2 separate regions of the Homo sapiens genome follow, and region 1 is linked to region 2. The links come from fine-mapping of genetic effects on gene expression. A gene starts in region 2. The other region holds a variant in brackets. All regions are shown on one strand. Distances are between the middles of the regions.

The links.
Region 1: its variant is fine-mapped to the expression of SBNO1 in whole blood (TOPMed, PIP above 0.99).

Annotation. Positions count from the first base shown.
Region 1 is chr12:123,395,478-123,411,460 of GRCh38, reverse strand. KMT5A (lysine methyltransferase 5A) reads right to left here. Exons shown (of 8, transcript NM_020382.7): 5 at 15,029-15,116; 6 at 7,829-7,888; 7 at 6,387-6,577; 8 at 2,108-3,968. The coding sequence ends at 3,758. It also overlaps a transcript of RILPL2 not described here. Among named protein-coding and RNA genes, the nearest start is that of KMT5A, 19 kb to the right of the region's middle. RefSeq lists an enhancer at 8,826-9,589. The variant A/G (reference allele first, on the strand shown) is at 10,034.
Region 2 is chr12:123,356,626-123,372,608 of GRCh38, reverse strand. SBNO1 (strawberry notch homolog 1) reads left to right here and starts at 7,762. Exons shown (of 32, transcript NM_001167856.3): 1 at 7,762-7,908. It overlaps MIR8072 (microRNA 8072), which reads left to right and starts at 7,766; the gene lies at 7,766-7,845. It overlaps SBNO1-AS1 (SBNO1 antisense RNA 1), which reads right to left and starts at 7,661. Exons shown (of 2, transcript NR_157806.1): 1 at 7,494-7,661; 2 at 6,805-7,084. RefSeq lists silencers at 1,803-1,976, 7,382-7,481, 7,612-7,851, 7,962-8,041, 8,082-8,191 and enhancers at 7,002-7,211, 8,672-8,721, 8,378-9,096.

The DNA of each region.
Region 1 (15,983 bases), 39 kb before region 2:
GCCCAGGCCGGAGTGCAGTGGCAGGATCTCAGCTCCTGACCTCATAATCCGCCTGCCTCGCCCTCCCAAAGTGGTGGGATTACAGGGATTACCGTGCCTGGCCAGCAGTCATCTTTTACAATGAACAAATAGGGCTGGGCGCGGTGGCTCACATCTGTAATCCTAGCACTTTGGGAGATGGGCAGATCACGAGGTCAGGAGACCAGCCTGGCCAACATGGTGAAACCTCGTCTCTACTAAAAATACAAAAATTAGCTGGGTGTGGTGATGCACGCCTGTAATCCTAGCTACTCAGGAGGTTGAGGCAGGAGAATCGCTTGAACCCGGGAGGTGGAGGTTTCAGTGAGCTGAGATTGCACCACTGCACTCCAGCCTGGGCGACAGACAGACCAAGACTCCATCTCAAAAAAAAAATAAATAAATAAATAAAAATAAGTCAGGCACAGTGGCTCACGCATGCCTGTAATCACAGCCCTGTGGGAGGGTGAGGCATGAGGATCGCTTGAGGCCAGGGGTTTGAGACTAGCTTGGGCAACATAGTGAGACCCTATCTCTACAAAAAGTAAAATGAACAAATAAATATAGCAACTACATATCAGAACTTGGAGGCACTTATTAGCTATTAGTCCTGAGTACTTGTAAACACTGAATAGAAGCTAGCCAAATTTTTAATTCTAATAATAGCTAATACTGATTACTGAAGGCTATGTGCAAGGCACTGTTCCAAGTGTTGTTTTTTTTTTTTTTGTATTAACTCATTAAATCCTCACAATCACCCTGTACAAGTATTATTACTGTCTCCATGTTACAGGGAGGGAAACTGACGCACAAGGAGACTACGTACCTGCCCAAGTTACACAGCAGTGGATTGGAAGCAGAGGTTCTGTTCCAGCAGCCACATGTCCCCTCCAAGGTGAAGCTATAATACTGATGCCTGAATCTTTGGGGGAGGAGGCAAGTCAAGTGGGCAGAGATTATCCCTATTTGAGACAAGTTTCAGAGAGGGGAAGTGACTTGACCAATGTCACACGGCTGACAAACACTTAAAACTGATGCTGGAACTGGATCTTTTGCATCTAAGCCAAGGGCTCTACTCACTGTTCCAATCTACCACCAGTGCCCAAGCATGGAGGGGACAGGGATCTGGGCTGGTAATAGGGACTTCCAGCCCAAGACAGGTGCAGTGATGATTCAGAGCCTCCTGAGAATCATCAAGTCTAGTAAATTATAAGTCGCAATGACAATTACATCAGCTAAAGTTTATGATGCTTACTATGTGCCATTGTTCTAAGGCTCAAAATGCATTAACTTTTAAGCTGGGCGTGGTGGCTCATGCCTATAATCCCAGCATTTTGGGAGGCCGAGGCGGGTGGATCATTAAGGTCAGGAGTTTGAGACCAGCCTGGCCAACACGGTGAAACCCTGTCTCTACTGTGGCCGGGTGCAGTGGCTCACGCCTGTAATCCTAGCAGTTTGGGAGGCCAAGGCGGGCAGATCACTTGAGGTCAGGAGTTCGAAACCAGCCTGGTCAACATGGTGAAAGACCGTCTCTACTAAAAATACAAAAAAATTAGCTGGGTGTGGTGGCTGGCGCCTGTAATCCCAGCTACTTGGGAGGCTGAGGCAGAATTGCTTGAACCTGGGAGGTAGAGGTTGCAGTGAGCCCAGATCATGCCACTGCACTCCCACCTGGGCAACAGAGTGAAATTCCATCTCAAAAAAAAAAAAAAAAAAAAAAAAAAAAAAGGCCAGGTGTGGTGGTGCATGCCTGTAATCCCAGCTATTCAGGTAGCCAAGGTACGAGAATTGCTTGAACCAAGGAGGTGGAGGTTGGAGGTTGCAGTGAGCTGAGACTGCCCCACTGAACTCCAGCCTAGGTAACAGAGACTGTCTCAAAAAAAAAAAAAAAAGCATTAACTTTTAATCTTCACATACCCTATGGTCCCCAGTATACAGATGAGGAAACGAAAGAGCTCAGAGTTCTGGGAAACACGCTCAAAATCACGTCAGTAAGCTTTTCTGGTTCCCCAGGAGGATGCTTACCAAAGCTTAGACATGCTGGTGTGACACAGTCAAATTGTAAAAACAGAAAGACACACACGTGGCCTTGCCTGGCAATAAATATTTTAATTTGTTTCATTTTTATGATGACAAATAATTTTCAAGTTTATTTCCTTGTTTAAATACAAAGCTAAACCACAAACAGGTATAATCAAGACATTGTGTCTCACATTTACACTCCCATCGGATCCTCTTCCAATTTGCTGACCACTGACCAGGCTAGCGGGGGGTGGGAGGGAAGACTTTCTTAGGTAGCACCGTCGTGAGGCCCGAGGTGGGGTTGGGGGGGAATCAAAGACGAGGACAGCCTCTCATACCTGTCTCCATTCACATTTACCTGGGACCAGGGTGGGCAGGAGACACCAGGTCATGGCTCCTGAGCCCCGGCCCCCTGGACTGAAGGGACAGTGTGTGAGAATCAGTTCTGTGAAGGGCGGGAGGAAGCAGTCACCTATTCCTCCTGCCTTCACAGTTAAGGTGAAAACCTTAGCCCTATCCTTGATTCCTGGGGGCTGCCGGGCCCTGTGTGCTCCCCTGCACACCTGGGTGCCTTTCTGAGGCTGGCAGCAGCGGCCGGGGTCAGGGGTCCTGGGCTCCTAGGCTCACACCTCAGCTCACAGTTGCGTCCTTGCAGGAGGACACTGGGTGTCTGACAAACACAAGGCCTCGACAGCAGGTCTGGAACTTTCAACCCCAGCAGGATGAGGGGGAATGGGGGTGGATGTCAGGTAAGTAATTTCTGGTCCCACTACAAAACTTTATTTTTGATTAGAGTACCATTCTCAATCTCTTCTACAAAAAGCAAAAAAAAGCAAAAAAAAAAAAAAAAAAAAGCAGCCACTTCACTCACTTCAAGACCTATATACATGTAAAGTTGTTTTCTGTGGTTTTTTTTATTTTTAATTTTTTTAAATTTTTATTATTATTTTTTAAAATAAATTCAGTGTTCACATTTCTATAAAGAATTAACCCAGTTTCAGGAAACCCTGCCCCAGCAGGGCAGGTAAGCAACCCTCTCCCTGCCCACATCTAGTTTGATTTCACGCCCTGATGCTTCAAGGTGCCCAGAAAAGCGGCAGCTTGTGGAAGAGGAAATCTATGCCCGGCCCGTGCTTGGGGCCCGGGGCTCAGTAAGCTTTCGAGAAAGCAGAGGGGAAGACTAGCTTACTGCAAAAACCTTTTTAAAAAATATTCATACACTTCAGTGAGCGCCTGTTGAGACGTTAGGGGAACAAGAGCTTGGAAACATCCCGTCCAGGCCATTGGGAGGCAGCGTCTTCCTCACACCCCGTCCCTGGATGTCGGGGGTGCAGGGGGAAGGTCCCGGCTCTTCCACTGGAGAAAGGAGACTCACCTGGCTTCCTAGTTCATGTTTGACTATTTCCTCTAAAACCTGTGCTGAGTCTTTGACTGCATGCACGGGAAGCACAAACGTTCGGCTTGTATGCAAAAAAAGTACAAAAACAACTAGAATATAAAAGTTTTGGTAATATAAGGCCATCTGTTCAAGTCCACCTTGGAAACCTGTAACAGATATTTAAATACTACAGTGAAAAGGCATCTTAATATACTTTTTAAAAACATCTGAAGTAATCCGCTAAGATTAAGTGTGTAAAAAAAAAATTCAATTCCCTTTGAGGGCACTTTGTCCTTTGAAGAAGGGAAAGTGGGGCGGGGAGGGCACGGGGCCCACCGGTTAATGCTTCAGCCACGGGTGGGCTTCAATGGAAGCCTTGCTGCGGTCCCCATAGTCATACAGGAGCTCCTCCCCAGCCGCGATGTCTCGGGAGGCGATGAGGATGAGGTGAGGTACGCCGTCGATGTCGTGCAGTTTGGTTTGGCAGTTCCCACATTTGCTGTGATTGATCAGTCTTCCTAGGCGATTTGTCTCTCTAGTTGCATCCACGCTGGAGGGGAAGGAGGGCCAGAGAGGATTAAATGGATAAAGAGGCTTTTCAACCTGAAGAGAGTCACACTTGTGCTCAGCTCTGGTGGGATGCTGATTTAAAGCCATGTGTTTTGAAAAGATTCAATTCATAAAGCTATTTTCTTTTTCCTTTTTAGAGGGGGTCTCGCTCCGTAACCCAGGCTGGAGTGCAGTGGCACGATCACGGCTCACTGCAGCCTCCACCTCCCGGGCTCAAGTCATCCTCCTACCTCAGCCTCCCGAGTAGCTTTGACCACAGGTACATGCCACCACATCAGGCTAATTTTTAATTGTTTCTGTAGAGACAAGATCTCCCTATATTGCTCAGGCTGGTCTCCAACCCCTGGGCTCAAGTGATCCTCTGGCCTTGGCCTCCTGAGTTTTTGAGATTACAAGCACGAGCCACCAGGTCTGGCTCAATTTGCAAAGCTTTTTTTTTTTTTTTTTTTTTTTTGAGAGGGAGTCTCGTCGCTCTGTCGCCCAGGCTGGAGTGCAGTGGCACGATCTCAGCTCACTGCAACCTCTGCCTCCCGGGGTAAGGCAATTCTGCCTCAGCCTCCTGAGTCACTGGGATTAGAAGCGTGTGCCACCATGCCAGGCTAATTTTTTTGTATTTTTAGTAGAGATGGGGTTTTGCCATGTTGGTCTGGAGCTCCTGACCTTCATGATCCATCCACCTCGGCCACCCAAAGTGCTGGGATCACAGGCATGAGCTACCACGCCTGGCCCACAAAGCTATTTTTGAGAGCCTGCACAGGCCCTGGGTGGGGGGATGGGGTAGGACCCAAAGGGCTCTTTATGGAGGCACAGGAGGAAATGGTAGAGTTTCACAAAATAAATGGATTAAAAAAATCAACCCCGCCAGGCGCGGTGGCTCACGCCTGTAATCCCAGCACTTTCGGAGGCTGAGGCGGGTGGATTACCTGAGGTCAGGATTTCAAAACCAGCCTGGCCACCATGGTGAAACGCTGTCTGTGCTAAAAATACAAAATTAGCTGGGCGTGGTGGCGCATGCCTGTAATCCCAGTTACTTGGGAGGCTGAGGCAGGAGAATTGCTTAAACTTCGGAAGTGGAAGTTGCAGTGAGCCAAGATCGTGCCACTGCACTCCTGCCTGGACAACAAGAGTGAAACTCCATCTCAAAAAAATAAAATAAAATAAAAAATAAAAAATTCAACTCCACTGGTCCTAGCCAGGCAAGATCAATTAGTGATTTCCAGAGCTGCTCTGGCCAAATGCCCTGAAGGAGAGCCAGGTGAGCTGCTTAACAGGTTTTCATGTGACTAGCCCACTTCTCCCCTTGGATGAGATAACATCCAGGACAGCTCCAATTCCAAAGATTAAAAATGGGAAGCTGGGGCCACAGTGGCTCATGCCTGTAATCCCAGCACTTTGGGAGGCCAAGGTGGGCAGGTCACAAGGTTAGGAGATTGAGACCATCCTGGCTAACACAGTGAAACTCCATCTCTACTAAAAATACAAAAAATTAGCCAGGCATGGTGGCATGTGTGTGTAGTCCCAGCTACTCAGGAGGCTGAGGCAGGAGAATCGCTTGAACCTGGGAGGTGGAGGTTGCAGTAAGCCAAGATTGCACCACTGCACTCCAGCCTGGGTGACAGAACGAGACTCCGTCTCAAAAGAAAAAAAAAAAGGGAAGCTGGGGCCAGGCGCAGTGGCTCACATCTGTAATCCCAGAACTTTGGGAGGCTAAGGCAGGCAGACCATATGAGGTCAGACCAGCCTGGCCAACATAATGAAACCCTGTCTCTACTAAAAAAATATATAAGAATTAGCTGGGCGTGGTGACGCACACCTGTAATCCCAGTTACGTGGGAGGCTGAGACAGAATACCTTGAACCCGGGAGGTGGAGGTTGCAGTGAGCCAAGATTGTGCCACTGCACTCCAGCTTGGGCGACAGATCGAGATTCAAAAAAAAAAAAAAAAAAAAAAAAAAGGAAGCAGGCGATAATTGCATCACAGCTTTGAAAAAAGGCAACAACAGCCCGAGCGCAGTGGCTCACACCTGTAATCCTAGCACTTTGGAAGGCCAAGGCGGGTGGATCGTCTGAGGTCAGGAGTTCAAGACCAGCTTGGCCAATGTGGCAAAACTCCACCTCTACTAAAAATACAGAAAAAAAAAATTAGCTGGGCTACTCTGGAGGCTGAGGGAGGAGAATTCTTTGAGCCTGAGAGGAGGTTGCAATGAGCCGAGATCACACCACTGCACTCCAGCCTGGGCAACAGAGCAAGACTCCATCTCAAAAAATAAAAAAAAAAAAGTCAACAACAACAAAACCAAAAGACTGGCCACCAAACAGAATCAGGAGTTCCTGGCCCTTTGGCCTCTCCTCACTGCCCAGAGGACAGAAAAGCCACTCTAAGCAACAGTGGACTCACCAGTAGGTTTTGCTCAGATACTGAAAATAGTACATGTAGCAGCCCGTGGAAGGGTCCTGTGCGTACAGAGCCTCCCGTTTCTTGGCGTCGGTGATCTCGATGAGGTCCCCGTGGTATTCCACCACAAAGTCACCCCGGGAGAACTGCTTGGTGGCAATCACACCCCTGCCTTTGCCATCGATGAGGTCAATCTGTCAGGTGATAAGAGAGGGTGTTGGTTCATAATAGCAATGGATGCCACTGTGCACAGCAGGTCTCCGGGGAGCTGGGGCTTACCCCAGTCTTTAACAGCTGTACTGAGCCATGTCATAAAATTCACTCACTTTACATGTACAGGCTGATGGGTTTTATGAAGTGTATACAGCTGTGCAACCGTCACTACAGGCCAGCTCTAGAACGTTCCCTCACTCCACAAACGTGGTTCCTTGGTGCTCATCTGCAAAGCAGTTACATCAGAGCTCGTGAGAGATCTGCTAGGTGGAGACTGCCCCATTTTGTAGATGAGGAAACTGAGGCTTAAAGAGGCACAACCACGTGTCTGAGGCCACACAGCTAGACAGTGACACAGCTCAAATCCACACACCTGGTTTCTCTGTCTAGGGGCTATGCGCTATGCCTTCCTAGGCAAACAGCAGGCCCAGTGTTCTGGGTCTCTACCTCATTCCACGATTTCTCTCCTGTGTCTCCTCACTCTATTCTACATGGAGTTGAATGGGGTTGCTGGAGGGGCCCAGGACTTAAGCCGGAATCCCCCTAGGTGGTGGGTGGAAGTGGAAGCTTTCTGAACCCGGAGCCCTAGTCTAGGCCCATCTGAACCCCACTGTAGAGAGTACTTCTCCTCTCGCCCAAACTGAGTGTGGTTGAAATACAGTAAGAGAAAAGCACATTTCTTGGGCATTGTCATTATCTAGGAAAACAGTTTAAAAATGTATTAGTTTCTCCTTTTAAAAGTTTCCCTGGGCATCAGCTACATATTGTATAATCCGATTTATATGAAGTGCCCAGAAGAGCAACTCCACTGAGACAGAAAGCAGCTGAGTGGCTGCCAGGGGCTGGGCAGGGGAGAGGTGGGGATGGTGGGCAGTGGTAAGTAATGGGTAAGGGTTTCCATTTGGGAGGATGAAAAAATTCTGAAATTAGACAGGGATAATGGTTGCATTGCATTGTGAATGTACAAAAAGCCACTGAATTGTTTAACCACAATTTCTAAGAAAAGCTTCCCCTGGATAACATTTATATACAAAGCCCATTTATGTTTCCTTCATAAGACATTTCCTTAACAACTTTTGGTATTTGGCTCTTTGACAACCTAATAGAGTCTGCCTGGTCACCATGGCCATTAGAGGGTGAAAGCCACATGGTGGCCACTCTCAGCCACGGGACCAGGGAAGGTGAGCTCTTCCAGCTTTAGCTATGATGCAGCAAGCACAGCAGCCCCTTACCTTCATTCCTTCTTCCTTCCCACTTTCAATCAATTCATCTATTCTTTTCCTTTCTTCAGACTGGGCAGAGAGAAAGAAAAACAGCATCAGTATCTTCTCCTAGGCCCATCGTGCGTAGCTTGATGGTCTTGAGCCCTGATTGCCCAGGCCATGCCCACCGGGCCACAATCGGCCTCATTTGGCATCACTGGGGATGATGGGTCCCCAGTGATGGCAAAGCCCCCAAGTATCCCTCCTTTTCTCATCACCCATCTGTTGTGGAAGATCTGTCACCTGGGGTTCAACTGGATCAGGAGGGAAACAGTGGGGACCCAAGAACAGAATGGGGCTCGTAGATATGTTCTGTTGCCCATGCAGCACGTTAAAAAATGTCCAACTTGCCCACACCTGAAAATCAGGCCTCTGACTTCACAGAAAATCAGGTACAGTGGGCCAGGCGCGGTGGCTCACGCCTGTAATCGCAACACTTCGGGAGGCCGAGGCGGGCGGATCGTAAGGTCACGAGTTCGAGACCAGCCTGGCAAATAGGTAAAACCCTGTCTCTATTAAAGATACAAAAATTAGCCAGGTGTGGTAGGAGCCTGTAGTCCCAGCTACTCGGGAGGCTGAGGCAGGAGAATCGCTTGAACCTGGGAGGTGGAGGTTGCAGTGAGCCAAGATTGTGCTACTGCACTCCAGCCTGGGCGACACAGCAAGACTCCACCTTAAAAAGAAAAAAGAAAATCGGGTACAGCAGATCAGAGGCTGTGCCCTTTGGATGGGACACACGCAGTCCACATGGCTCTGGTCTGATGGCTCATACTTCTGTTTGGGATCGCTGAGATTCACCTGTATGGAGGCCACCACGATGGATGAGAAGAGGGCCTCCAATCCCGAGGGTCAATACAGACCTGAACAGAGAACTGGGAGGGGGCACCCCTGGATCCACCTCTCCTCTAAGGCCACCCCTCCTGCACCTACCTCCATCCCTAACCCTGGGTTCTACTGCTCTGCCACTGCACAGATACTACAGAGCAAAAGGGAACCAAATGAAGACAGATCGGAAGCTCCAAACCAGTGTGGCTCACCCCAAACCAGCATGTCTTGACGGCATAGACTTTCACCAAACCAGATGGCACGTGTCAGGAGCCTGACACCAACTGCTGAGCTCAGCCCATTCCCCCTACACAGAGGCCCAAACCAGCTTGCAGCTTTTCCAGGCACTCAATCCACACCTGCAATGTGCCAGGCGCTGCAGTCTGTGCTGGGAACAATGGTGAATGAGTAACCTCAAGGACAGTCCCAAATCCTGCCACCTCCTCTCCATCTCCATTCCCACTGCGGCCCTGCAGCCCAGCCACGGCCCCGGCCCCGCTCCGGCCCCCTTGCTAGTCACCAGGCTTTCACTCTGACCCCAGGGAACACTCAGTTCTCCACAAGGTAGCCAGAGGGGTCTTTTAAAATGTAAATGAGGCCAGGGGCAGTGGCTCTCTCCTGTAATCCCAACACTTCAGGAAAGCCAGGAGGAAGGATCGCTTAAGGACAGGAGTTAGAGACCAGCCTAAGCAACAGATCCAGACCCTGTCCCTACAAAAAATAAATAAGCTAGGTGTGGTGGCGTACACCTTTGGTCCCAGCTACTCTAGAGGCTGAGGAAGGAGGAGGATTGCTGGAGCCCAGGAGGTTGAGGCTGCAGTGAGTCATGACTGTGACACTGCACTCCTGCCTGGGCAACAGAGTGAGACCCTGTCTTAAAAAAAAACAGAAAACATGACCAGGCATGGTGGCTCACGTCTGTCATCCCAGCACTTTGGGAGGCTGAGGTGGGTGGATCACTTGAGGTTACGAGTTTGAGACCAGCCTGGCCAACATGGCGAAACCCCGTCTCTACTAAAAACACAAAAATTAGCTGGGCGTGGTGGCACACACCTGTAATCCCGGCTACTCAGGAGGCTGAGGCAGGAGAATCGCTTGAACCCAGGAGGTGGAGTTTGCAGTAGGCCAAGATCGCACCACTGCACTCCAGCCTGGGAGACAGAGCAAGACTCCATCTCAAAAAGAAACAAAAAACAAAAAAAAACCTTCCCATAAACTTATTTAATAGTAATATACCTAACAAAACCTCACATATCAATATTAACCTTAAACATAAATGGACTAAAATGTTCCACTTAAAAGATATGAAAGATAAGGGTCAAGAAGGTTAAAAAAAAAAGAAAGATATAC[A/G]CCTGTTATCCCAGCACTTTGGGAGGCCGAGGCGGGCGGATCACGAAGTCAGGAGATCGAGACCATCCTGGCTAACATGGTGAAACCCCATCTCTACTAAAAATACAAAAAATTAGCCGGGCATGGTGGTGGGCACCTGTAGTCCCAGCTACTCGGGAGGCTGAGGCAGGAGAATGGTGTGAGCCCGGGAGGCGGAGCTTGCAGTGAGCCAAGATCGCGCCACTGCACTCCAGCCTTGGCAACAGAGCAAGACTCCATCTCAAAAAAAAAAAAAAAAAAAAAAGAAAGATATATATTGGTGGAATAGATTTAAAAAAAACAACAACAAAACTTGGTCAGGTACAGTGGCTCATGCCTGTAATCCCAGCAGTTTGGGAGGCCAAGGCAGGTGGATCACCTGAGGTCAGGAGTTCGAGACCAGCCTGGCCAACATGACGAAACCCTGTCTCTACTAAAAATACAAAAATCAGCCGGGCATAGTGGTGCACACTTGTAATCCAAGCTACTTGGGAGTCTCAGGCCAGGAGGCGGAGGTTAGTAAGCCATAATCATGCCACTGTACTCCAGCCTGGGCAACAGAGTGAGACCTTGTCTCAAAACAAAAAACAAAAAACAAAAAAAAAACTTCAACCAACAGTAATATACCAATGTTGGTTGTTACTTAGCTGTGACAAATTCACCAGAGTAACTTAAGTGAGAGAAGATGGGTAAGGAGTCTGGGGAACTCTCTGTATTATCTTTGCAACTTTTCTATAAAATTAAAATTATTGGCCAGGCGCGGTGGCTCACATCTGTAATCCTAGCACTTTGGGAGGCCAAGGTGGGCGGATCACAAGGTCAGGAGTTTGAGGCCAGCCTGACCAACATGGTGAAACTCTGTCTCTACTAAAAACACAAAAATTAGCTGGGCGTGGTGGCAAGCGCCTATAATCCCAGCTACTTGGGAGGTTGAGGCAGGAGAATTGCTTGAACCTGGGAGGTGGAGGTTGCAGTGAGCCGAGATCGCACACCTGCACTCCAGCGCGGGCTACAGAGTGAGACTCTGTCTCAAAAAAAAAAAAATTGCAAAATAAAAACATTTTAAAAACTTTTTGGCTGGGCACGGTGGCTCACGCCTGTAATCCCAGCACTTTGGGAGGCCGAGGCGGGCGGATCACAAGGTCAGGAGATCGAGACCATCCTGGCTAACACGGTGAAACCCCGTCTCTACTAAAAACACCAAAAATTAGCCGGGCGTGGTGGCAGGCGCCTGTAGTCCCAGCTACTTGGGAGGCCTTTTTAATTATTTTTTAAGATGGGGTCTCACGGCCGGGCTCAGTGGCTCACGCCTGTAATCCCAGCACTTTGGGAGGCCGAGGCAAGTGGATCATGAGGTCAGGCATTTTGAGACCAGCCTGGCCAACGCAGTGAAACCCTGTCTCTACTAAAAATACAAAATCAGCTGGGCATGGTGGTGGGCGCCTGTAATCCCAGGTACTCAGGAGACTGAGGCAGGAGAATCACTTGAACCCGGGAGGTGGAGGCTGCAGTGAGCCAAGATCGCGCCATTGCACTCCAGCCTAGGTGACAGTGTGAGACTCTGTCTCGAAAAAAACAAAACAACAAAAAACCCACAAAAGATGGGGTCTCACAATGTTGCCCAGGTTGGTACTGAACTTCTGTTCTCAAGTAATCCTCCCACCTCAGCCTCCCAAGTAGCTGGTGTCTTTTTTGTTGTTAATTACTCCCCATTGGAAAACAAGCCCTACGGGCTGGTCTAGTTTACTGTGGAATCTCCTGGTCTAGAACAGTGCACACAGCAGGCCCTCAAAGCAACACCACCACCATCACACACATAACCACCTTGCTGTGTGACCCATTCATTGCAAGTGTGCAGAGAGTGCTGAGAAGTACGGGGGCCCATGTAAACGGGAGTGATCATGGAAAGACCGGGGTAGTGGAATGGGGGTTTTTCTGCTGGGACCAAACACGGCAGGTAGGAGATGCGCAGAGGGAAGCTGGGACCAGGCCAGATGCCCCGGCACAAAGCCAGGGAGGCTGAGTCTCCCAAAGGCCTGGAATTTGGGGCCTGCAAACAACCAGCCCTGGGTTTTCTAAAGGGACTTCTGGCAGGAACCCACAAATGGGCCTAGAAGGAGATGGAGTGGGAGGGATACAAGGTTGGAACTAGGGCAGTTGAGAAGCGCCTGTGACCAGGAAGGAGGGGACCTTCCCAAGCGGAATCAGCAGGCTGCTTGCACATCTGGCCCTGGGGCCGAGCTGGGCATGAGGAAGCCCAGCCATTGCCAAGAGGCATGGTCCCTGCCCCGCTGCTGGCTGCCACCCCACCCACAGCCAGGCTGGCCGGCCAAGGGGCCCCTGCAGTGAAGCACTTGGTGGATAGGGCATCTCTCCAAGGCCCACCTTGTGTCCAAATCCAGCAGCCCTGATCCCACCCTGTTGCCCAGGACCCACGCCCTGGCGCTAGGCCCGCCCTGGCTGCTGTCTTCAGCCTCAGTGGAGGTATATAAGAGGCTCTGAATTGCAGTTTCACCCCAGACCATCTGGCCAACAACAGGCTGTATTATGCCCCACCCTCCTGGATCCACAGCCTGGGCCCAGCATGGCAGTCAAGTCAGGACTGACCCCACCCTTCAGATGAGCCCCAGCTGTCCCGTTCTTGGGCTTTATCTGTGCAGTCAGAAAATATTCCACCCTGACCAGCTCTAGCCACGTCATCCCGGCCAGCTATGGCCTCCCTGCCCTGGCCAGCAACAGCTTGCATGGCTGCACTCAGCAGAGCCAACACAAACAGTGGGGGGCAAAGCACGGCTCCCGGTCCAGGAACAGGGCGAGCTTTCTTGTGTTTGCAGACTGTGCTTTAGGGAAGCAAGTGTGTTCTTCCCTTCTGCTCATCTGCTGCAAGATTTAGCAGACCTGCATCCTGTCCCATCGCAGCCTTCACTCTGCCCAGCACAAACTCTTGCTTCTTATTAACAAGGCCAACTCGGCTCCCCCCACCCTAAAGTCCACAGCAGCCCTTGGTGGACGCTCAGCAGAGGCCCTGTGTGTGGGCACACCGCAGCTCCAACCCTGGCTGGGAGGTGTCTGGGATTCTGTGGTCTGGCACCACCTCACCATCTGCAGTGCTGTCTTTTTTTTTTTTTGAGACGGAGTCTTGCTCAGCCACCCAAGATGGAGTGCGGTGGCGCGATCTCGGCTCACTGCAACTACCGTCTCCTGGGTTCAAGTGATTCTCCCATCTCAGCCTCCCAAGTAGCTGGGATTACAGGCACCTGCCATCATGCCTGGCTAATTTTTGTATTTTAGTAGAGACAAGGTTTCACCATGTTGGCCAGGCTGGTCTCGAACTCCTGACCTCAGATGATCCGCTCACCTGGGCCTCCCAAAGTGCTAGGATTACAGGTGTGAGCCACTGCACCTGGCCCAGTGCTGTCTTTAAGAGTGACCTAGCAGGCCGAGCACGGTGGCTCACGTCTGTAATCCCAGCACTTTGGGAGGCTGAGGTGGGCGGATCACCCGAGGTCGAGAGTTCGAGACCAGCCTGACCAACATGGACAAATCCAATCTCCACTAAAAAAAAAAAATACAAAATTAGCTGGGCGTGGTGGCGAATGCCTGTAGTCCCAGCTACTCAGGAGGCTGAGACAGGAGAATCACTTGAACCCAAGAGATGGAGGTTGCGGTGAGTCGAGATCACGCCATTGCACTCCAGCCTGGGCAACAAGAGCAAAACTCCATCTCAAAAAAAAAAAAAAAAAAAAGTGACCTAGCACAGCCTCCCACTGCTGACAAATGTTTTAAACAGCTCATTCTTGGCTGAAAGACATTGCCTTTTTCAGGCAATAAAACCAAAGCTGCTCTCTGTGGGGAAGAAAATGGACCTTTTTAAAAATTTTTTTTAAATGAAGCTTCATCAATTAAAAGAAAAAGAGAAAGAATACTAGACCACTGTGTATCTGCGCATTTAACATCAAGAACGCTGAAGGAGTCCGCATGAGGGCTGAAATGCTGAAACTGCCAAAGCCGGGGTCCCCACCTCTCTGTGTAGGATGCAATCCTGAGCACCTCTCCCAACCCGGTGGTCACTGTGGGGGTGAGGGAGAGCAGAGGGGCAGCCCCAGGTGTCCCTGAGGGGGAAGAGCAGAGGGACCTGCCATGCCCTGCGTTTCCTTCACAGAAAGGCAATAACCACACCTCACTGCAGCAAATATTGACTGCCTGCCGCATAGCTCAACCCTCTGCAAACATGGCAGCGGAGGCCCGCATAGGCCAGCTGGCCTTCCAGCCGGTGCTGCTCACTGGTCTGCAGGCTCCTAGTATGGCAGCAGCGTGGGAAAGAGCAGACGGGAGTGACAACACTGAGGAAGCAGAGGTGGCGATAGTAACAGTTAGCTGGCACTTACTGAGTGCCAAGCATGGTTCTAAGGGTTCCTCTTGCATGACCACATTTATTGAATGCTCACCACAGCTCTAGCAGGTACTACATTATTGTACCATTTTACAGACTGGAGAGCCAAGGCATGGACAGGGTAAGTGACTGGCCCAAGGCTACGCAACCAGCAAGTGGCCCCAAGCCACTGCTGTTTAACACCCTGGGCCACAACATGGAAACTTCCAGAAAACAGACAAGAAAAGCCTCTGAAAGAACAGGCAGCCTTTCCCACAGTCCCAGGCTCCCAATGGCTCTGCCAACAAGTCCTGGAAAATCCACCTTCAGAGTCACACCTGGCTTTCCCTGCCACATGCTACAAGTCACAAGGTTCCTTCACACAAGTGTCTTAACCAAGCCCTGCAGTGACCCCAGCAGAAAGGCAGGACAAGCTTTGTGAGGATCCCCGATAGATCCAGGAGAAAACCAAGTCCAGAGGGGCCAAGAGACTTGCTCCAAGATGACGAAAACAAGGCTGAGGACACACACATACGCACACGCCAAGCACTGCTTGGTGGGCCACCCTGCCCCTCCACAAACTGGAATTTAAAGCACGTGACTACCTGCAGCTCGGCTTTGCTCTTCCTGGAGCTCCTTCGGACAGGGTAGAAATCCGTAAGTTTGCGATTCTGTTGCGTTTTTCCTTGAGCTCTGGGTAAGAGGGGAAGAGGAGAAAATAAATATCAGGACTGAAAACCTGGAGGCACACAGCTCCTTAGAAGGCACACACCGAGGAGGCACACAGCTCCTTGGAGATGATGTCACTTAAACACCTTTGTCCACTGGAGCCTGCAGGTCACTCAGTCACCTGCCCATGAGGGCCTCAGAGGAGTTTCAAAGACGGGCTGCTGGCTGGGCGCAGTGCCTCATGCCTGTAATGCCAACACTCTGGGAGGCTGAGGCGGGAGGATCACTTGAGCCCAGGAGTTCAAGACCAACTCAGGCAACACAGCAAAACCCCGTCTCTAAAAAAAGGAAAGAAATTAGCCAGGCATGGTGGTGCACACCTATGGTCCCAACTACTCGGGAGGCTGAAGTAGGAGGATCACTTGGTCCTGAGAGGTTGAGGCTGCAGTGAGCTACTGCACTCCAGCCTGGATGACAGAATAAGACCCTGTCTCAAAAAACACAACAGTCGGGCATGGTGGTTCACGCCTGTAATCCCAGGACTTTGGGAGGCTGAGGCAGGCAGATCACGAGGTCAGGAGTTTGAGACCAGCCTGACCAACATGGTGAAACCCTGTCTCTAATAAAAATACAAAAATAAGCGGGACATGGTGGCATGCACCTGTAATCCCAGTTACTCAGGAGGCTGAGGCAGGGGAATCGCTTGAACCCAGGAGGTGGTGTTTGCAGTGAGCCGAGATCGCACTATTGCACTCCAGCCTGGGCAACAAGAGACTCTGTCTCAAAAAAAAAAAAAAAAAAACACAAAACACCAATCACCAAAAAAGACAAACAAAAAAAATAAATTTAAAAAACAAAGGCTGCTTATGCTGGGGTGGGTAAGGAGGGGAG
Region 2 (15,983 bases):
AAAGCACATCTTGCACCGCCCTTAATCCATTTAACCCTGAGTTGACACAGCACATGTTTCAGAGAGCACGGGGTTGGGGTTAAGGTTATAAATTAACAGCATCCCAAGGCAGAAGAATTTTTCTTAGTACAGAACAAAATGGTGTCTCCTATGTCAACTTCTTTCTACACAGACACAGTAACAATCTGATCTCTCTTTCTTTTCCCCACATTTCCCCCTTTTCTTTTCGACAAAACCGCCATCGATATCATGGCCCATTCTCAATGGTCGCTGACTCGTCGGAGCTGTTGGGTACACTTCCCAGATGGGGCGGCCTGGCAGAGGCGCTCCTCACTTCCCAGACGGGGTGGCGGCCGGGCAGAGGCACCCCCCGCCTCCCAGACGGGGCGGCGGCCGGGCAGAGGCGCCCCTCGCTTCCCAGACAGGGTGGCCGGGCAGAGGGGCTCCCCACATCCCAGACGATGGTCGGCCGGGCAGAGACGCTCCCCACTTCCCAGACGGGGTGGCGGCCGGGCAGAGGCTGTAATCTTAGCACTTTGGGAGGCCAAGGCAGGCGGCTGGAAGGTGGAGGTTGTGGCGAGCCGAGATCACGCCACTGCACTCCAGCCTGGGCAACAGTGAGCATTGAGTGAGCGAGACTCCGTCTGCAATCCCAACACCCCGGGAGGCTGAGGCGGGCAGACCACTCGAGGTCAGGAGCTGGAGACCGGGCCGGTCAACAGGGCGAAACCCCGTCTCCTCCAAAAATACAAAAACCAGTCAGGCGTGGCAGCGCACGCCCGCAATCTCAGGCACTCGGCAGGCCAAGGCAGGAGAACCACGGGAGCCCGGGGCAGGGAGGCTGCAGCGAGCCGAGACCACGGCAGTACAGTCCAGCCTCGGCAACAGAGGGAGACTGAAGAAAGAAGGGAGAGGGAGGGGGAGGGGGAGGGGGAGAGAGGGAGCTATTTATTATTTCTTCAAGACAGGATTTCACTGTCACCCAGGCTGGAGTTCATGCAGTGGCACAAAGATGGTTCACTGCAGCATCGACTTCCTGGGCTCAGGGGATTCTGTGCCTCAGCCTCTTGAGTACCTGGGACCATACATGTGTGCCACCATGCCCAGCTAATTTTCTTGATTTTATCTTTGTAGAGATGGGGTCTCACTATGTTGCACAGGCTGGTCTTAAATTCCTGGCCTCAAGGAATCCTCCTGCCTTGGCCTCCCGAAGTGTTGGGATTACCAGCGTGAGTCACCACACTCAGCCCCTGGTCTGTTTTTTTTTTTTTTGAGACTGAGTCTCCCTCTGTCACCCAGGCTGGAGTGCAGTGGCACAATCTCAGCTCACTGCAACTTCTGCCTCCAGGGTTCAAGCGATTCTCCTGCCTCAGCCTCCCGAGTAGCTGGGATTACAGGCGCCTGCCACCATGCCCAGCTAATTTTTTTGTGTGGGTTTTTAGTAGAGACGGGTTTTTACCATGTTGGCCAGGTTGGTCTCGAACTCCTAGCCCCAGGTGATCCACCTGCCTTGGCCTCCCAAAGTGGTGGGATTACAGGAGTGAGCCACCGTGCCTCGCCTGTATTGACTCTCTCTCTTTTTTTTTTGAGACCGAGTCTCCCTCTGTAGCCCAGGCTGGAGTGCAGTGGCACGATCTCGGCTCACGGCAGCTTCCACTTCCTGGGTTCAAGTGATTCCCCTGCCTCACCCTCCCGAGTAGCTGGGATTACAGGTGCCCACCACCACGCCCAGCTAATTTTTTTTTTTTTTCAGATGGAGTCTCACTCTGTCACCCAGGCTGGAGTGCAGTGGCGTGATCAAGGTTCACTGCAACCTCCACCCCGCCGGGTTCAAGGGATTCTCCTGCCTCAGCCTCCTGAGTAGCTGGGATTACAGGTGCTTGCCATCGTGCCTGGCTAATTTTTGTATTTTTAGTAGAGACGGGGTTTCACCATCTTGGCCAGGCTGGTCTTGAACTTCTGACCTCGTGATCCACCCGCCTCAGTCTCACAAAGTGCTGGGATTAAAGGCGTGAGCCACTGCGCCCGGCCAATTTTTTGTATTTTTAGTAGAGACAGGGTTTCACCATGTTGGCCAGGCTGGTGTTGAATTCCTGACCTCAGGTGATCCACCCACCTCGGCCTCCCAAAGTGCTGGGATTACAGGTGTGAGCCACTGCGCCCAGCCCAGCCTGTATTGACTCTTGTTTTTTCTTTTTATTTTTGTATTGACTCTTTTTTTTTTTTTTTTACTATACTTTAAGTTCTAGGGTACATGTGCACAACATGCAGGTTTGTTACATAGGTATACATGCTCCATGTTGGTGTGCTGCACCCATTAACTCGTCATTTACATTAGGTATATCTCCTAATGCTATCCCTCCCCTCCCCCTTCCCCCCTGTATTGACTCTTATATCAAAAAAGTTAAGGCTGAGCACAGTGGTTCCCACCTGTAATCCCAGCACTTTCAGAGGCCAGAGTAGTAGGATCACTTGAGCCCAGGAGTTAGAGACCAGCCTGGGCAACATGGTGAGACCTTGTCTCTATAAAAAGAAAACCAGGGCCAGGCGCGGTGGCTCACACCTGTAATCCTAGCACTTTGGGAGGTCGAGGTGGGTGGATCACCTGAGGTCAGGAGTTTGAGACCTCCTGCCTGACCAACAAGGTGAAACCCCGTCTCTACTAAAAATACAAAAATTAGCCAGGCATGATGGCAGGTGCCTGTAGTCCCAGCTACTTGGGAGGCTGAGACAGAGAATTGCTTAAATCCAGGAGGCAGATGTTGCAGTGAGCTGAGTTCATGCCACTGCACTTCAGTCTGAGCAATGGAGTGAGACTCCGTCTGAAAAAAAAAAAAAAAAAAGAAAACTGAAAAACCAAAAAAGCTCAGGGTTAGAAATCGCTTCAGGTTTGACAGGGTCCCAGGACTCAGCAGATGTCATCAGAATCCAGTCCCTCCCCACCCCACCTACTCCTTTGCCCTGCTGTTTTCTGGGTTGATCTCATTATCAGCGTGGCCTCCTGCCCCACAGGGCCTCTGCCCCAACTTCCCAACACTGTCTTAGCAACATCAGAGGCAAGAGAGTATCTTTTTCCTGATATTTTCAATGCAAAGTATTAGAACTGCGACTCACTGGCCCGGCACCAAATCGGATCACTATGGCTGTGGATCCAGTATTCTAATCAGCTAGACCTGGCTTGCACACTCAATCTGGAGTGATGTGCATGAGACATGGTTAGTGCTCTCCAAACCACATGGACTTTGAGAGAGGGAGATAAAACTAAGATGCGGCTCTCTGAAGAAAGAACCATAGATTCTGGGCAGTCAAAAACAACTGTCTACCACAGTGTTTGCCATCTTGAATAATCCAATAGATGCTTCAGCCACACACTGGTGCTCTCTGCTGCATTAGACATCGCTGGTGCTAGTGTCTCTGAATTAGAGGGTGACCTTTATGGGGGCTCTGATTGCTCCTGGTGTCTCAGGGAAGGATTTGGTGTGATGAGGCTAATTCAGCGAGTGTGTGGAAAACTGCAAACTGGGTATAGTTGATGCTATTGCATAGAAGTGCAGCTGCCAGGGTGAAGAAGTGTTGCTGGGATGACTACTCCCTTGCATCCATGATATAATCTCTCCTTGATTCTGCTTTGACCTCTCTGATTGACCTTTCTCATGCTCACTGGGTGCTCACTTTCTTTCTTTCTTTTTTTTTTTTTGAGGAGTCTCGCTCTGTCACCAGGCTGGAGTGCAGTGGTTCGATCTTGGCTCACTGCAACCTCCACCTCCTGAGTTGAAGTGATTCTCCTACCTCAGCCTCCTGAGTAGCTGGGATTACAGGCACACACCACCACACCCAGCTAATTTTTGTATTTTTAGTAGAGACGGGATTTCACCATGTTGGACAGGATGGTCTCGATCTCTTGACCTCGTGATCCTGCCATCTTGGCCTCCCAAAGTGCTGGGATACAGGCGTGAGCCACTGTGCCCGGCCTGGTGCTCATTTCTTTTTTGTTGTTGTTGCTGAGACAGAGTCTTGCTCTGTTGCCCAGGCTGGAGTGCAATGGCACCATCTCCACTCACTGTAATTTCCGCCACCTGTGTTCAAGTGATTCTCCTGCCTCAACCTCCTGAGTAGCTGGGATTACAGGTGTGCACCACCACACCCGGCTAATTTTTTGTATTTTTAGTAGAGACAGGGTTTCACCTTGTTGGCCAGGCTGGTCTCAAACTCCTGACCTCATGATCCACCCACCTTGGCCTCCGAAAGTGCTGGGATTACAGACGTGAGCCACCACACCTGGCCTGGTGCTCACTTCTTAGACACAGAACCTCAGCTCTGCCCCTGGCTCTCCTCTCTGCATTCTCTCCTAGTTGTATTTTTTTTTTTTTTTTTGAGATGAAGTCTCACTCTGTCGCCCAGGCTGGAGTGCAGTGGCATGATCTCGGCTCACTGCAACCTCCACCTCCTGGGTTCAAGCGATTCTCCTGCCTTAGCTTCCCAAGTAGCTCAGATTACAGGTGCCTACCACCACATCCGGCTAATTTTTGTATTTTCAGTAGAGATGGGGTTTCACCATGTTGGCAAGGCTGGTCTTGAACTCCTGACCTCAGGTTATCCACCCACCTTTGCCTCCCAAAGTGCCTGGATCACATGTGTGAACCACCGTGTCCAGCCTCTCCTAGTATAGTTTTATCCCGTCTCACATTAATCCCCATCTGGATCCCCAAGCTGTAGGATTCAATTGCTTCCTAAGTATCTCCAATAGGATGTCCCAAAGGTCCCTCACCCTCAAAATTCCTTATGATTTACTTTGGTAGCGTCCAATGAACAACACTTCCCACTAGTCATACCCTTGTGTTGCCTTTCCTGAGCTGAATTTGGCTGCCTTGTTAACCAATAGAATGTGGTGGAAACATCACTGTCAGTTGCAAGCCTAAGAATTTTTTTTTTTTTCCAGACAGAGTTTTGCCAAGCGCAGTGACTCATGCCTGTAATACCAGGACTTTGGGAGGCTGAGGCGGGCGGATCACCTGAGGTCAGGAGTTTGAGACCAGCCTGGCCAATATGGTGAAACCTCCTCTCTACTAAAAATACAAAAATCAGCTGGGTGTGGTGGCACACACCTGTAGTCCCGGCTACTCGGGAGGCTGAGACAGGAGAATTGCTTGAACCTGGGAAGCAGAGGCTGCAGTGAGCCGAGATCGCACCGCTGCACTCCAGCCTGGGTGAGATAAAGCAAGACCCCGTCTCAATAAATAAATAAATAAATAAATAAATAAATAAATAAATAAGGCCCGACGCAGTGGCTCACGCATGTAATCCCAGCACTTTGGGAGGCTGAGGCGGGCATATCACCTGAGGTCAGGAGTTCGAGACCAGCCTGGCTAACATGGTGAAACGCCGTTTCTACTAAAAATACAAAAAATTAGCCGGGCGTGGTGGTGGGCACCTGTAATCCCAGCTACTCAGGAGGCTGAGGCAGGAGAATCACTTGAACCCAGGAGGCGGAGGTTGCAGTGAGCTGAGATCCCGCCATTGCAACAAACTAGCTTGGGCAACAAGAGTGAAACTATGTCTCAAAAAAAAAAAAAATTAAAAAAATAGTTTCGCTTTGTTACCCAGGCTGGTGCAGTGGCACGATTATAGCTCACTGTAGCCTCAAACTTCTGGGCAATCAAGTGATTCTCCTACCTTAGCCTCCTGAGTAGCTGGGACTATATATCACACTTGGCTAATTAAAAGTTTTTTGTTGGGCCGGGCGCGGTGGCTCACGCCTGTAATCCCAGCACTTTGGGAGGCCGAGATGGGTGGATCACGAGGTCAGGAGATCGAGACCACGGTGAAACCCCGTCTCCACTAAAAATACAAAAAAAAAAAAAAAAAAGTCCTAGCTACTCGGGAGGCTGAGGCAGGACAATGGCGTGAACCCAGGAGGCAGAGGTTGCAGTGAGCCGAGATCGCGCTACTGCACTCCAGCCTGGGCGACCGACAGAGCGAGACCCCGTCTCAAAAAGAAAAATGTTTTTTTGTCGAGATGAGGTTGCACTTTGTTACCCAAGTCTGGTCTCAAACTCCTGGCTGAGATCCCCGTTTCAGCCTCCCAAAGTGTTGGGATTACAGGCGTGAGCCACCACACCTGGCCTGTGCCTAAGGTTTTTTTTGTTTTTTGTTTTTGAGTCGGATTCTCGCTCTGTCGCCCAGGCTGCAGTGCAATGGCACGATCTCGGCTCACTGCAACCTCCGTCTCTTGAGTTCAAGCGATTCTCCTGCCTCAGCCTCCAGAGTAGCTGGGATTACAGGTGCCCGCCACCAAGCCCCAGCTAAATTTTGTATTTTTAGCAGAGATGGGGTTTCACCATGTTGGCCAGGCTGGTCTCGAACTCCTGACCTCAGGTGGTCCGCCCACCTCGGCCTCCCGAAGTGCTGGGATTACAGGCGTGAGCCACTGCGCCCGGCCTAAAATATTTTTTATTTTTGTCTTTATAGGTTTTTTTTCTATGTGTGTGAGAGGATTAAATGAAATAATGTAATTAGTAAAGCGATTAGTTAGCACTTTAAAAATATTTATAAATGTATACATAGATATATAATACATATCTATGTGTACAAACACTGAAGTTTCCTATTCTTTCTGTGCCTACTTTTTCCTTTCTTTCCCCGAATACTTTGTCTCTGGAAGAGTTCACACTGTAACCTCCAACTGTTCCAGCTACTTGGTTTGCTTTCAGCACTAGGCTTGTAGGATGCGCAGCCAGTAGGGGGCAAGAATCACCCAGGCGTGCTTATTACCCAAGCAACGGAGTCAAACAGCACTTTCAGAATGACTTTACAAAAGGGTTACCAACAAGGTAATATGTTTATTGTGTTAGGTCGCTTAATAATAACGAAAAGATGAAAACAAGGAAGTGAGAAGCGGTAGGGACAGCCCTACTCTTCAGTATTCATTAAGTGGGAGCCCCGGTGTGTCGGGCTTGCGTATGAGCGTGAAGACAGACGTGGGATGGCTGAGCTCACACGCCTTAGGCTCTGATTCTAGCCGTGGTCGCGCCGAGGGCTCCGGGTTACTTGCGGTTTCACTGCCAATAAAGTGCTTTGAGCGAGCCTAACAAGCAATGAATATGTAAACATTTTGTTTCTAGGACTAACTAGGTAATGAAGAGATCTTCCAAGTGACAGAAACGCTGCTAGGTAACTTCCTGGGCCGTAGCTCCCCACCCTAACAGGTTCTGAAAATAGCTCCAGGCCCTTCCTAACCGGAGTTTGAAAGCAGGCGCGGGGCGCATGCGCGCGGCCCTCCGGCCGACCTCCCGATAGCCCTGGCACGCGGACCTTCTTCCCGACAGGCCGCGGGGAAAAAAGGGCGGGGAAACGGAATTACCGCGAGCTCTCCGTGAGCGCCGGCGGAAACAGTAGTCACGTGACTCTCCTAGGTGGCCTTCGCCTTCCCCCTCCCCCTTCGCGGAAACCCGGCCCCCTCACCCCTCGCCCACCCCAGAGCCGCGGTAATGGACCGTTTGGGTTCCGGAATTCTCTTGGATCCAACAACTGGTACCGGGCCGAGGATAGCCGGCGGAGTCCGTTTTTGGCGGCGAAGACTGGGGGGTGGTCAAGATGGGGGGGAAATCATCTTCCTTCACCTAGGAGGGAGGCGGGGCGGAGAGGGGCGCAGAGAGGCGGGTGGGGGAGGAGGGAGGAAGTCACGTGAGGGCGCTGCGTGCGCGCGGCGCCTCATCCGTTGCCCCTCCCCCGCCCCTCCCGGCGGGGCGGGGGGGCTGGGGGAGGGGCGTCAAGATGGCGGCGGGGAGGTAGGCAGAGCAGGACGCCGCTGCTGCCGCCGCCACCGCCGCCTCCGCTCCAGTCGCCTCTGGTCCTTCAAACTCACACCTCCCGGGAGGAGCTGTGCTGGCGCCGGGTCCCGCGGGGAAAGTAAGTCCTTCCCTTGGCCCTTTTCTCCTTCCACACTCCCCCTCCCGGACAGCCTCCCACTCCCACCCTCGGGGGGCCGTGCGGGGCCAGGCTGGGGGGACAGCCACCTCGCCCCGGCTTGGGGCCTCCCTCGCCGCTTGCCGCTCCTCGCGGCCGCGCGCTCCGGGGCCCTCGGGGGCATGTTCCCGACGGCGGCTCCGTTGTACTCGCTTCCTCTGTTCGTCAGCGCCGGGCCCCGCTGTCGCCGCTCGTGGGGCTTTCGGGCTCCGGGAGCCCCGCTGTCCCGGGCCGGAGGCACCCCTCTTGGACCGCGGGGCAGGGTCTGTGCACGCCGGCTCCGCTGGGTTCGCCCCTTTGGCTTCCGCCTCACAACCCGGGGGCTGCGGGTCCGGGACCCGCGGGGAAAGTAAGGACCGGATCCTTCCCAAGTCCTCTTTCGTGCCCCAGCATTGCTCCCGGCTCTGGGCGAGGGAGGGAGGCAGGCGACGCGGTCGTCCTTCCTAAATCTGAACCCCACAGCGCGGTCTCGTACATGCCCCGCTCTTGGGGCGGTGGGGAAGCCGCGGGGGACACGTGCAGGCTCCCTTCACGCCTCTCCAGGCGACTCGCTTAGTTCTGCCTCGGCGGGCGAGCTCACCTCCCAGACCCTAAGAATTACCCATGGAGGGGAACGGCAGTTGGGGATTTGCTTACTTTGAGAGCGTTTGGCATAACGAGCATCCAGAGTTCCCCAAAGCAGTGGATACCGGTGGTTTCCCAGAAGTGGTTTGGGGTCGGTTTAACCGCTGAGGAGATTTGGATGTTCCTAAACCCTTCTGATTGTTTCTTTCCTGACCCTGGCATCCAGCTCCTCCCCTTCCCACCCCTGCTTTGTGCTTCTGTTTGGTTAATGTTTGCGGACCACTAACTTGATCCTCGCACAGAGAAGCTCTTTTTATGTGCGTGCTCGGTTTACTGTGGGAGGCTTTTGTTTTGGGGAGTCGCTGGTTGAGAAACGTGGGAAAAGAACGGGCCAGAAAATGAGAGACAAATAAAGCAACGTTTTTATCCATTGAATTGCGCAGCCAATTGTAAGTGCACCCGGAAGTTTGTACTGAACACGTGTTGAGGGAAGGTTATAAACTGGTCCCCTTTGACCTTTGAAAGTTGGCTATTATCATTTTATGTTGAGTTAAATGTTTCATATATTCTAGACAGCCAGAATTAGGGATGGAATATGGTTTCTAAAGAGTCATCCAGAAGGGTGCAGAGAACTGTCATCCGGAGTGCCCTAGCAGGAATTGACTTAACACTTTCAGATAATTCTGCGAGCTGACAGTACAGAGGGATTCTATTTTCCACCATATTTTCTAGCAATCAGAATTGATTTTCATAAGCGTAGGGAAAGCTATCATCGTTGCACAGAAGATAGCAGAATTTCCTACTGGTGACTTGAGTGGGACATTAATTTTGCAAGCAAGGGAACATTTTCTCTCATCTTTTAAAGAAGTTGTTTCCAAAATTTTTCCGATGGGAGACGACTTTACTTTTTTTCTCTGGCTTCTGCTTTTTATCTTCCATTCCAACTTATTCCATATAATTGCGTTTGGAATATTTATGCTATTTTTAAATTTTTGAGACAGGGTCCCACTCTGTTGCTCAAGCTGAAGTGCAGTGACGTGGTCATAGCTCACTGCAGCTTGAACTCCTGGGCTCAAGCGATCGTCCCACTTCAGCCTCCGGAGTAGCTGGGACTACAGATGTGCACCACTACAGCAGCTAATTTTTTTTTTTTTAATTTTTTTGTTGAGAGGCGGGGGTCTCACCATGTTGGGAGGCAGCTACTGGCCTCAAGCAATCTTCTGGCCTCCGCTTCCCGAAGTGGTGGGATTACAGGCATGAGCCATTGTGCCTGGCCCCTTCAGAATCTTTTTTTTTTTTTTTTTTTTTTTTGAGGCGGAGTCTTGCTGTGTTGCCCAGGCTGGAGTGTAGTGGTATGAACTCGGCTCACTGCAACCTCTGCCTTCAGGGTTCAAACAATTCTCCTGCCTCAGTCTCCCTAGTAGCTGGGATTGCAGGCATGTGCCACCACACCTGGCTAATTTTTTTTTATGTAGTTGGCAGAAAGGGGTTTCACCATGTCGGCCAGGCTGGTCTCACACTAGTGACCTCAAGTGATCCACTCACCTCTGTCTCCCGGAGTGCTGGAATTACAGCCGTGAGCCACCGCCCTTGGCCCCCCCGTCAGAATCCTTTTTTTTTTTTTTTTTTTTTTTTTTTTTTTTTGAGACGGAGTCTCGCTCAGTGGCCCAGGCTGGAGTGCAGTGGCACGATCTCTGCTCACTGCAAGCTCCGCCTCCCGGGTTCACGCCATTCTCCTGCCTCAGCCTCCCAAGTAGCTGGGATTACAGGTGCCCGCTGCCACGCCCGGCTAATTTTTTGTACTTTTAGTAGAGACGGGGTTTCACCATGTTAGCCAGGATAGTCTCGATCTCCTGACCTCGTGATCCGCTTGCCTCGGCCTCCCAAAGTGCTGGGATTGCAGGCGTGAGCCACCACGCCCAACAGAATCTTTTTTTTTTGAGGTGGAGTCTCGCTCTCTCGCCCAGGCTGGAGTGCGGTGTCATAACCTTGGCTCACTGCATTCCTCTGCCTCCTGGGTTAAAACGGTTATTCTGCCTCAGCCTCCCAAATAGCTGGGACTACAGGCGCGTGCCACCATGCCCGGCTAATTTTCGTATTTTTAGTAGACACGGGGTTTCACCATATTGGCCAGGCTGGTCTCAAACTCCTGACCTGGTGATCCGCCTGCCTCGGCCTCCCAAAGTGCTGGGATTACAGGCGTGAGCCACCGCGCCTGGCCTCAGAATCTTAAATAAATCTTCACTTTAGTTGCTGAAGGGGAGACACTGAGTTAGTGGCCTACTATTCATTCATTCATTCATTGAATGCGGTTATATGTCAGGCAATTTTGTATTTTTTTTTTTTTTTTAGACTGTCTTGCTCTGTCACCAGGCTGGAGTGCAGTGGGGTGATCTGAGCTCACTGCAACCTCCCGCTCCTTGGTTCAAGTGATTCTCCTGCCTCAGCCTCCTGAGTAGCTGGGATTACAGGTACACGCCACCACGCCCAGCTAATTTTTGTACTTTTATTTATTTATTTAAATATTTTTTGAGATGGAGTTTTGCTCTTGTTGCCCAGGCTGGAGTGCAATGGCGCGATCTCGGCCCACTGCAACCTCCCCCTCCCGGGTTCAAGTCATTTTCCTGCCTCAGCCTCCCGAGTAGCTGGGATTACAAGCATGAGCCACCACGTCTGGTTAACTTTGTATTTTTAGTAGAGACGGGGTTTCTGCATGTTGATCAGGCTGTTCTTGAACTCCCGACCTGAGATGATCCACCCACCTCCGCCTCCCAAAGTACTGGGATTACAGGCGTGAGCCACCATGCCCAGCCTTCTTTCTATTTTTTATTTTTTTGAGACGGAGTCTCACTTTGTTGCCCAGGCTGGAGTGCAGTGGTGTGATCTCTGCTCACTGCAACCTCCACCTCCCAGGTTCAAGCAATTCTCCTGCCTTAGCCTCCCAAGTAGCTGGGATTACAGGCATGTGCCACCACGCCCAGCTAATTTTTGTATTTTTAGCAGAGACGAGGTTTTACCATTTTGACCAGGATTGTTTCAATCTCTTGATCTCGTGATCCGCCTGCCTCGGCCTTCCAAAGTGCTGGGATTATAGGCGTGAGCCACTGTGCCCGGCCAATTTTTGCATTTTTAATAGGGATGGGGCTTCACCATGTTGGCCAGGATGGTCTCGATCTCCTGACCTCGTGATCTGCCTGCCTTGGCGTCCCAAAATGCTGGGATTACACGTGTGAGCCACTGTGCCCAACCTGTAGGTTTTAAGTGCCTTACTGAAAGTACTGTTGAAAAAGGGGCAGCATGCAGATTCATTTTATGCTTTAAAAAGTGGTTTGTCTCGGCCAAGCTTGGTGGTGCACGCCTGTAATCCCAGCACTTTGAGGGGGCCGAGGCTGGTGGATCACGAGGTGAGGAGATCCATACCATCCTGGCTAACACGATGAAACCCCTGTCTACTAAAAATACAAAAAATTAGCTGGGCGTGGTGATCCGCACCTATAATCCCAGCTACTCTGGAGGCTTAGGCAGGAGAATCGCTTGAACCTGGGAGGCAGAGGTTGCAGTGAGCCGAGATTGCGCCACTGCACTCCAGCTTTGGCGACACAGCGAGACTCTGTCTCAAAAGAAAAAAGTGGTTTCCCTCAGAGTTTAGCTACAGATATGTTTAGGCATTTCTTAGCATCTAAATTGAGCTTCGATTTGTGACTTGCCACCTGTGAAGATGGAGAACACTCAGGGCTAGTCCTACTGAGTAACCTCACATTCCATGAGGCTCTGTGGGTTCCCATGCTTTGCCTTTCTAAAGTTGGTGTAAAGATACATTTTTTTTTTTTTTTGAGATGGTGTTTCACTCTTGTCACCGAGGCTGGAGTGCAATGGTGCAACCTTGGCTCACCTGCAAGCTCCGCCTCCCAGATTCAAGCGATTCTCCTGCCTCAGCCTCCCAAGTAGCTGGGATTAACAGGCGCCCACCACCATACCTGGCTAATTTTTTTGTGTGTTTTTAGTAGATACAGGGTTTCATCACGTTGGCCAGGCTGGTCTCGAACTCCTGACCTCAGGTGACCAACCGGCTTGGCCTCCCAAACTGCTGGGATTACAGGCTTGAGCTACCATGCCTGGCCAAAGATAATTTTTAAGAGTAATTACTTTAGCATTAAATACCAATTAATAACTATCTAAAATGATGTAATCCTAAAGTTTTTGCAGTTGTCTTTGTTTTTATATGCTGATTGACAGATGCAATTTGTTGTGGCTTGAACTCACCAAGTGTTAAGACAACCTTAGGGATACCACTGAAATTTCCTTAAGTGGAAAGGATGGGCTCTTAAAGATCAGGAATTCTCTTTTATGAATAAGATATGGTATGAAACCTATCAAATTAACTTATTTATTGGGAGGCAATATATAGATCAGAGTCATGCTTTTCAAATATTTTTATTGCATCCCACAGTAAGAAATGCGGTTTACATTGTGACCTAGTATACATATACCCATACAACTATATATATATCTTTTTTTTTTTTTTGAGACGGAGTCTCCCTCTGTTGCCCAGTCTGGAGTGCACGAGTGCGATCTTGGCAACCTCCACCTCCTGGGTTCAAGTGATTCTCCCACCTCAGCATCTCAAGTAACTGGGATTACAAGTGTGTGCCACCACGCCCAGCTACCTTTTTTGTGTATTTAGTAGAGACATATATGTATATGTTGGCCAGTGTATATGTTGGCCAGGCTGGTCTCGAACTCCTGGCTTCAAGTGATCTCATCTTGGCCTCCCAAAGTGCTGGGATTACAGGAGTGAGCCACCGCACTCAGCCTATACTGAGCTATTTTAAAATGCTGATACAGTAGGCTGGGTGCGGTGGCTCACTCCTGTAATCCCAGCACTTTGGGAGGCTGAGGCGGGCTGATCACGAGGTCGGGAGATGGAGACCATCCTGGCTAGCACGGTGAAACCCTGTCTGTACTAAAAATACAAAAAAATTAGCTGAGTATGGTGGTGGGCGCCTATAATCCCAGCTACTGGGGAGGCTGAGGCAGGAGAATCACTTGAACCCGGGAGGCAGAGCTTCCAGTGAGCCAAGATCTCGCCTCTGCCCTCCATCCTGGGTGACAGAGCAAGAGTCCATCTCAAAACAAAACAAAACCTGATACACCAAATTGATTTGACACCCTGCTAATGTGTTGTCATCAGTAGTTTGAAAAGTACTGGAACAGGGTTGGGAGTACAGGATCTTGGAGTGATGTGGTGTCAGACCTTCTGAATTTGTAATTCTATTCCAAGCTCCCTTTGTTGTATTTCATTTTTCTTCTTCTTTTTTTTTTTTTTTTTTTTTTTTTGAGACGGAGTCTTGCTGTGTTGCCCTGGCTGGAGTGCAGTGGCGCGATCTTGGCTCACTGCAAGCTCTGCCTCCTGGGTTCACGCCATTCTCCTGCCTCAGCCTCCTGAGTAGCTGGGACTACAGGCGCCTGCCACCGCGCCCGGCTAATTTTTTTCGTATTTTTAGTAGAGACGGGGTTTCACTGTGGTCTCTATCTCCTGACCTCATGATCCACCTGCCTCGGCCTCCCAAAGTGCTGGGATTATAGGCATGAGCCACCGCGCCTGGCCCGTATTTCATTTTTCTAAGCCTTGGTTTATAAATTGTGACAAAGGGATAATGGGTAGCATTTGATACTCATGGGTTATCTTGAAGGTTAAAAGAAAAAAACACACCCATATATGGGTTGAGCATCCCTAATCTGAAGATTCAAAATCTGAAATGTTCAAAATCTGAAACTTTCAGCACTGACATGATGCCACAAGTGGGAAATTCCACTCTTGACCTCACGTGAGTGATCACAGTCCAAAATGCAGTCAAAACTTTGTTTCATGCACATTTTAAGGTACTGTATAAAACTATCTTCAGGCTATGTGTATCTGGTGTATATGAAACATAAGTGTATTTTGTGTTTAGACTTGGGTCCAGTCTCTAAGATATCTCATTATGTATGTACAGGTATTCCAAAATCCAAAAAACCCTGAGTCACTTCTGGTTCCAAGTTTCAGATACGGGAAACTCAGCCTGTAGTGAGAATCAAGACAATTGACCATCTGAATTTGACTAGTGATAATCAAGAAAGTTGTTTAATTCCCCCCAACTCAATTATTTGTGTATTGCTTTTGTAAAGGACTTTTGTGGCTTTGTATATAATTTGCACATTCCTTTGTAAATATCTTCTTCCTACAGGTTTTGCAGTGGGGGTTACTTTACCAAGCAAGGTCCTATGAAGGGTAGGTGTTGAAAAGTACAGATTGCATTCTTTGTTGTTGTTGTTTTGTTTGTTTCTGAGATGGAGTCTCCTCTTTCGCCAGGTTGGAGTGCAGTGGCACGACCTCGGCTCACTGTAACCTCCACTTTCCGGGTTCAAGCTATTCTCCTGTCTCAGCCTCCCGAGTAGCTGGGACTACAGGCACCCGCCACCAGGCACCCGCCACCATGCCCAGCTAATTTTTGTATTTTTCGTAGAGATGGGGTTTCATCATGTTGGCCAGGATGGTCTCAATCTCTTGACCTTGTGATCCGCCTGCCTCAGCCTACCAAAGTGCTAGAATTACAGGCGTGAGCCACCATGCCTGACTGTTTGTTGTTTTGAGACGGAGTCCCACTCTGTCGCCCAGGCTGGAGTGCAGTGGTGCAGTCTCGGCTCACTGCAACCTTCACCCCCTGGGTTCCGGTGTTCTCCTGTCTCAGCCTCTGGAGTAGCTGGGATTACAGGCACGCCACCATGCCCGGCTAATTTTTGTGTTTTTAGTAGAGATGGTGTTTCACTATGTTGACCAGGCTGGTCAGGTCTCGAACTCCTGACCTCAAGTGATCTGCCTGCCTCGGCCTCCCAGAGTGCTGGAATTACAGGCATGAGCCACCATGCTCAGCCCAGATTACATTCTTTTAGATAAAGGAAATTCTTGTAAACTAACTTCTTTGTAACTGCTGTTTCTTTCTCCTGATGTTCTTAAGTGTCTACTGCACACAGTAGACACTTAATATTTGTTGATGAACTGTATCTCTAACTGGATCATTATCTTAAAATTCTTAAACTAAATGTCAGTCATATCACAGCTGCATAAAAGCACAGATAAAGCTGAATCTCGAATCAGACATGCTTAGCACTCTAAGGAGAAAAAAATCCTTTTTGTTATTAGCTAAGGTGAAGATATTTGCTAAGTGATAGTATCCGTGCACATTTAAAAATGTCCACCAGTTTATTCTAAATTTAGTAACTGATTGGTCAAGTTGGATGTGTAGCAGTAACACTTTAAGATAAAAAGGGACTAGTATTTTATATAATTGATATGTGCAGGGCACGGTGGCTCACGCCTGTAATCCCAACACTGTGGGAGGCCGAGGCGGATGGATCAATTGAGGTCAGGAGTTTGAGAACAGCCTTGCCAACATGGTAAAACCCCGTGTCTA